2 linked regions of the Homo sapiens genome follow. The protein of the gene in region 1 purifies or fractionates together with the protein of each later gene. This does not show direct contact. Each region holds a gene or a part of one and is shown in the gene's direction. Other genes may lie near its edges.

Evidence for each region. Proteins that work in one complex are often made in the same cells at the same time.
Region 2: the proteins of SMS (region 1) and NAA15 fractionate together in Homo sapiens (co-fractionation; one large-scale study listed by BioGRID). This does not show direct contact.

What each region holds. Positions count from the first base shown.
Region 1 is NC_000023.11:21,982,209-21,985,708, forward strand, and holds part of SMS (spermine synthase), read left to right. Parts: intron 1-2,095; coding exon 2,096-2,210; intron 2,211-2,935; coding exon 2,936-3,015; intron 3,016-3,500. UniProt on the Homo sapiens protein: Catalyzes the production of spermine from spermidine and decarboxylated S-adenosylmethionine (dcSAM).
Region 2 is NC_000004.12:139,304,505-139,308,004, forward strand, and holds part of NAA15 (N-alpha-acetyltransferase 15, NatA auxiliary subunit), read left to right. Parts: intron 1-3,500. UniProt on the Homo sapiens protein: Auxillary subunit of N-terminal acetyltransferase complexes which display alpha (N-terminal) acetyltransferase (NAT) activity. The NAT activity may be important for vascular, hematopoietic and neuronal growth and development.

The sequences.
Region 1 (3,500 bases):
GCACCTGTAGTCTCAGCTACTCGGGAGGCTGAGGCAGGAGAATGGCGTGAACCCGGGAGGCAGAGCTTGCAGTGAGCCCAGATCGCATCACTGCACTCCAGCCTGGGCGACAGAGCAAGACTTGTCTCAAAAAAAAAAAAAAAAAAAAGTACCACAAGACGGTCAACCCTGTTGGTGGCCCAGGAAGTTCTTGTGAAAACATTAGCAACAGACTTCACAAAATTTAGTAGAGGGGCAATATCTCATGCTGGGGAGGTTGTGGGGAGACAGGTGCTCATATGCATTGCTGGTTGGCGTGTGAATTGCTATCAAAACCGGAACACACGGCTTCTAGCCGGTGTTTGAGCACACAGCCCACAGTTAAAAAGGTGTCACTACAAGGTTTTATTATAGCTGTGCTTGTAGTGACCAAGGCTTGGCAATGACAACAGAAAGAATGTTTTTAGTGGAATGGTGTATTTTTTAAAATGTGTGTTATTACCTGGAGAGATGTTGGGTGAAATGTTCAAGTTCCAAATGATGTGTGGGATTCAAATTTTACAAAAGAGAACATACATTTGTGTTTGTGTGCAAGTATTCGTAAGAATCTGTGTGAACGTATGGAAAAAATATGAGCATATCAAACAGGATTAATACATGGATTGAAAGCAACGGTGGTGTTAGTACCTCCTATATTTTTCCATAGTTGGACTTGTATGATGCATTGAGGCAAGTTATAAAACAATAGGACAGAAAAGTCCCAGTTTCTTAAAATTATAACTGTGAGGCTATAAGAAGAATGATGAGAAATAACATGGGATAGGTTATCTTAGGGAATTGTGGTGAACTTTTTTTAATTTTTTTTGAGTCAAGGTCTTGCTCTGTCACTCAGGCTGGAGCACAGTGGTGCGCGATGATCATGGCTCACTACAGCCTCAAACTCCCGGGCTCAAGCGATCCTCCCACCTCAACTTCCTGAGTAGCCGGGACTACAGGCAGATACCACTAGGCCCAGCTGATTTTTCTTTTTTTTCTAGAGACGGGCTTTCACCATGTCGCCCAGGCTGCTCTAGTACTCCTGGGCTCCATTGTTCCGCCCACCTCAACTTCCCAAAGTACTGGGATTACAGGTGTTGGGCCACTGACCCCAGCCTGGCAAACTCTTAAACTCTTGGTTTCTGACTATTATATTTAATTTTTCTTTTACTTAATGTATTTTTTTTTTGAATTAGAAAACTAAAAGATGACAGTAACTCCTGTTTAGTTCAGGATGTTGCTTAGATCCAGATGTGTCCCCAGCATAGAGCCTCAGTACTTCAAAGATACAGCCAACCTCAAACTTCTTTTCTGTGTTAACTATATATGATCTGTATGGGAATTCCAGCTGGTCTCTTTATTGACTCTGATGGTGGGAGCTGTTATATATAGCTTTATTAGCAGTAGCCCAAGCGTTAGAGAAAATTGAGAAATAACATGTTAATAGTTTGAGTAAGGTGCAAAAGTGAATCCATAAACAATGAAGTCATTCAGTGCTTAGTATAAAAGAAAAATTAGGCTGGGTACGGTGGCTCATGCCTCTAATCCCAGCACTATGAGAGTCTGAGGTGGGCAGATTGCTTGAGCCCAGGAGTTCAAGACCAGCCTGGGCAACGTAGTGAGACCCTGTCTCTAGAAAAACTTTTTAAAAATAGTTTATTAATTAAAAAAATAAAAATTAAAAGAAGATGATACAGATAGTGATAGGAGAGGCAGTATAGATTAGAGATGAAAGTATGAAGTTGGCTTTCAGATAGTAATAGGTATACTTCGTGGATCTATGGGCAAGCTGGATAACACCTCAAGTTTGTTTCTGCATTGGTAAAATGGGATGATAATAGTGCCTCTAGGATTGTTGTTTTATTGAAATGAGAAGGCATATAAAGCATATATGGTAAGCACTTAATTTTTGCTGTTAACAGACATAGATGAAAGTTTTTTGGTTCCTGTAGCAGTTGCTGTGGATAGCTGTGGATATAAGCCCATACTTGGCGCTTTTTTCCTCCTTCCTTTACTATTGTTTTTTGTTTAACTACATCCACATGTTGGCTCACTCATCTATTCCTGTTCTTTCTGGAAGGTTCTAATAGAAGACTGTATCCCGGTACTGAAGAGGTACGCCAAAGAAGGGAGAGAATTTGATTATGTGATTAATGATTTGACAGCTGTTCCAATCTCCACGTCTCCAGAAGAAGGTAGATTTTTTTAACCAAGATATTTATGATGGAAATGTTTCTCTTGGCACCATGTGAGGGTGAAAGGATCCTAGAGATTGTGTAGTTCTCTCACGTTTTTGAAAAAGGGAGTTAAATTGAGGTCCATGGTGGAAAGATGACTGGATTTGGCTTCAATTCCTGTTCTGCCACTCAATGAGTGAACTAATTCAGTCATTTGAAACAAAAATGAAGTAAAATGACTCATTACATTAATGAGACAGTAAATCATTTGACAATTTATTTAAATTATGTGATTTTCAACCTGTATTGGTACAAACTGGTCACTTATCTAAGCAACGACATAGATAATTCCCTTTCTCAAACCAGATGTTTGTTCCAAATCACAGCTAGTTCGTGTTTTTTTCTATAAACTCAAGTTCCTGCTGAGTTTGCAGGCTCTGAATTTCTCTCAGGATTTTGCTGCTTGCCCCCTTATTTAAAGCAGTTTTCTTTCACGTTTCAGCCACTGCCTTTGTGTCAAATCTATTGGTATTTTGAGAGCGAGCAGTGCTAGGTGGATGTGATTTTGGCATCCAAAATCAATTTCATTATCGTTCATGAACAAGCTCTTTGAATAGTGGGTCTTACACTCGTGGCTCTTTTTCTTTTTCCTCTTTTGGTATTGAGTATTCGAATATTTTACTTCAGATGTTGTGGATACATACAAACCCATATTTATGAAACTTGTTCTTTTAAACATTCAGATTCCACATGGGAGTTTCTCAGACTGATTCTTGACCTCTCAATGAAAGTGTTGAAACAGGATGGGAAATATTTTACACAGGTAGGCTACTTAACAGTTTTTTCCCTCAAAACGCTCTAAGACTTTCCTGTTTTGAAATCTGAATGCACATTTTTGAAATGTATATCTATTAAGGATAGAGCGGCATCATCGGATTATGTTCTTTCAAACAGTAAGCTTCTACGTTGACCTGTTGTCTGTTGGGAATTAATGAGTTATCAGCCCTGGTCTTTCGCTGTAGTATGAGCTGCTGCCACCAGATGGAGACACAGACTGATTTTCTTTTTTCCCCTCCCCTCATCAACATACACTTGATGACAAAGCTCTGGCTGTACTGTGAACTCCTGCCACCAGATGGAAGCAGATTGTGGTGTTTTTCTCATTCTCTAGGGGATTCTAAACTTAAACTTTAAAGATTACATTAATTGGGGTTAAAAATATACATATATATCTCCTATTGAAATCCTTAACAAAATTTTGAAAATGACAGCAAAGACAGCTAATTGATAATCCAGTCTCTTGGTACA
Region 2 (3,500 bases), on another chromosome or scaffold:
TTTGAGTCCCTTATGTAAAGTGGTGTAGTATTTGCATATAACCTATGCGAATGTATACTTTAAATATCTCTAGATTACTTATAATACCTAATGCAATATTACTGTTATATAGTTATACTGTATTTTAAAAATTTGTATTTTTTATTGTATTTTTAAAAATAGTTTTTACCTATGGATGCAGACACCAAGGATAATGAGAGCTGACTGTATTTACTTCTATGCAGCGTTATCCCATGTATAGATTGCACCACTACAATTAGGCTACAGAACAAGTTCCTTCAGTCCAAAGTACCCCCCTCTGTTGCCCTTTTAGAACCACATCCATTATCTCTCCCACCGCCCTCCCATCCCCTCTCGCTGCAGGCTCCAGCAACCGGTACATGTCCTCTATTTGTATAATTTTGCCATTCTTTTGGGTTTAGAGATAGAGTCTTCCTCTGTTGCCCAGGCTGGAGTGTAGTGGCTATTTATAGGCTCTATCAAAAGGGCACTGTAACCTCAAACTACTGGACTCAAGCAGTCCTCCCGCTTCAGCCTCCGGAGTAGGGGGGATCACTACAGGGCTACTACATCCAGCTAATAGTTTATTCCTTTTTATTGCCAAGTAGTATTCCATGATATGGATGTACCACAGTGTGTTTAACCATCCATATAATAGCAATTTTTGATTAAACATCTTAATTTTTTTGTGGTAGTGTTAGTGGGGCAAAAACCTGTAAGTTTATTGCCAAAATCACAGTGCTGAAGATCTATTGATAAGTTATATGTGAGAGAAATGTGGAAGTCACTAAATGAAGGAAGAGTAAAGGAGCTAAAATGTCCTTATTGTTCTCATACATTAGGAATGAAGAAAGTGTTACTGACCAAAAGGATAGTATTGATTTTTTGAAATTGCTTCTGTTTCTTGAGATTTGATAGTAAGTTAGTGCTTTTAAGATTTTTTTTTTTTTTGCCCGGTCTGATAAAGGAAATGTTGGACATAATGTGATGTGTGTGCTCTATGTAATCAAGTGTTGCTAGGTTGGTAACTTGTTGTTTTTTTTTTTTTTTGAGACGGAGTTTCGCTTTTGTTGCCCAGGCTGGAGGGCAATGGCATGATCTCGGCTCACCGAAACCTCTGTCTCCCGGGTTCAAGCAGTTCTGCTTCAGCGTCCTGAGTAGCTGGGATTACAGGCGTGTGCCACCACACCTAGCTAATTTTGTATTGTTAGTAGAGATGGGGTTTCTCCATGTTGTTCAGGCTCGTCTCAAACTCCCAGCCTCAAGTGATCCACCCGCCTTGGCCTCCCAGAATGCTGGGATTACAGGCCTGAGCCACTGCTCCTGGCTGCTTGGTAACTTGTTAAATCATTCCTGCAGCATTCAACTTTTGAGCTGCTACTTTGTTAGTTGTACTGTACTTGTTATGATAAACTTAAGTAGGAAATACAGTTAGTTTGTATTTCAAAATAAACATTTTTTTCCTTAAATTTTTAATGGAAACCTGCTTTACACATAAGTTTGCAAAAATTTTAGAGTTTCTGCAGTGGATTTGCCTGGCTTGATCTAGTCTAGTTGATCTCTAAAATTCAGTTTTGTTGTATATTTTTCTCTTTTTTCCAATATTACTCTTCTGTTTTCTGACTAAAGCATTGTCCTAAGTTAGTCAAAATGCTTGCATAATGTTTCTTGCTGATAATTTGTCTAGAAAAAGGATGGGATGAATTTAATGTGACATATACTATGTAAGAGTTTATTTTATTTTGTTTGTTTTTTGAGACAGTTTTGCTCTGTCACCCAGGCTGGAGTGCAGTGGTGTGATCTTGGCTCACTGCAACCTCCACCTCCTGGGTTCATGCCTCAGCCTCCCAAGTAGCTGGGATTACAGGCGCCTGCCACCACACTCGGCTAATTTTTTTTTTTGTATTTTTAGTAGAGATGGTGTTTCACCATGTTGGCCAGGCTGGTCTTGAACTAGTGACCTCAAGTGTTCTGCCTGCCTCGGCCTCCCAAAGTGCTGGGATTACAGGCATGAGCCACTGCACCTGGTCCTATGTAAGAGTTTAAGGAAGACTTGTGTTTGCCAGAAGCTGGTTTTTTTTTTTTTGGTCTGGTTTTTTTTTTGTTTTGTTTTGTTTTGTTTTGTTTGTAATTACAAACTTTTAACTTATTTGGAAAATTAAGTCATTAGAAAATTGTGGCCTTTGCCTACTGTTGATGCTATTTGTTTATCTAAAAGTTTGAGGAGGTTACCAGATATTTATACCACTTTGTTAGGATCTAGGTTAAGGGTAGGAAAAATGAGGTTGCCAGAGTAGAACAAAATCCACACCTTAGATTTTAACCTGCTTGGAAAAGATGGACATATCCTAATGCCTTTCAATCAAGTATTGGTAGGTTGGTTGCTGTTGCTGCTGCTTCCTTCTCTCTTTTTTGCTCTTCAAATGTTAATGTCAGTTATAAGAAAAATCTAAGTTGGGAATAGTTAAAATATTGTACATCAATAAATGTAGTTTTGGACTTTAGCCTGAATGATTTAAATTGTTAGTTGTAAGTGTTAAAGGACAGAATTTTTCTTTCCTAGAAAAGTGGTGAGAGAAGTTAAAATAGCATGATGATTATGTTTGTGATTTGTCACTATTTGCCAGGTAAAATGAGAAATCTACCATTTGCCAGGCTCTGCTCTAGGTGCTTTAGAATAGCACTGCACAGTAGAATTTTCTGTGATGATGGAAATATTTGTTATCTGCTCTAATATGATAGCCATTGGCCATGTGTAGGTTTGTTTTTTGTTGTTTTTGTTAAGACAGGGTCTAACTCTATCACACAGTCTGGAGTGCAGTGGTTTGATCACGGCTCACTGCAGCCTCCACCTCCCGGGCTCAAGCTATCCTCCTAGCTCAGTCTCCCGAGTAGCTGCGACTACAGGCGTGCCACCACGCCTGGCTAATTTTTGTATTTTTGGTAGAGACGGGGTTTCGCCATGTTGGCCAGGCTAGTCTTGAACTCCTGGGATCAAGCAGTCCTCCTGCCTTGGCTTCCCAAAGTGCTGGGATTACAGATGTGAGCTACTGTGCCTGGCCTGGCCACATGTAATTATTGCACACTTGAAATATGGCTAGTGCAACTGAGGAAATGAATTTTTAATTAATCTTAATTTAAATTCAAATAGTCACATGTGGTGAATGGTTACCGTTTTGGACACAGCATGCTTTATTTAGAGTCCTTTCTTAATTCTCAAAACTTTTCAAGGTGGGGACATTTTTATTAAGCAAACAGACTGAGATTAAGGTCAACAGCTAGTGTTAGTTACAGTCTGGAATAAAACTTTTTTTCTTTTCAGGGCACTTAACATCACACCTGCCTAGTGTTTAACTATTTAGGGGAGGGGTGTAGGAGGAGGGTGAGGGAATTGTTAGGCAAAGGAGTAGTAATACTTATTAGGTGGCTGTATACATTGTATAATAAGTAAATTATTATTATTATTATTATTTTTTTGAGACGGAGTCTCACTGTTGCCC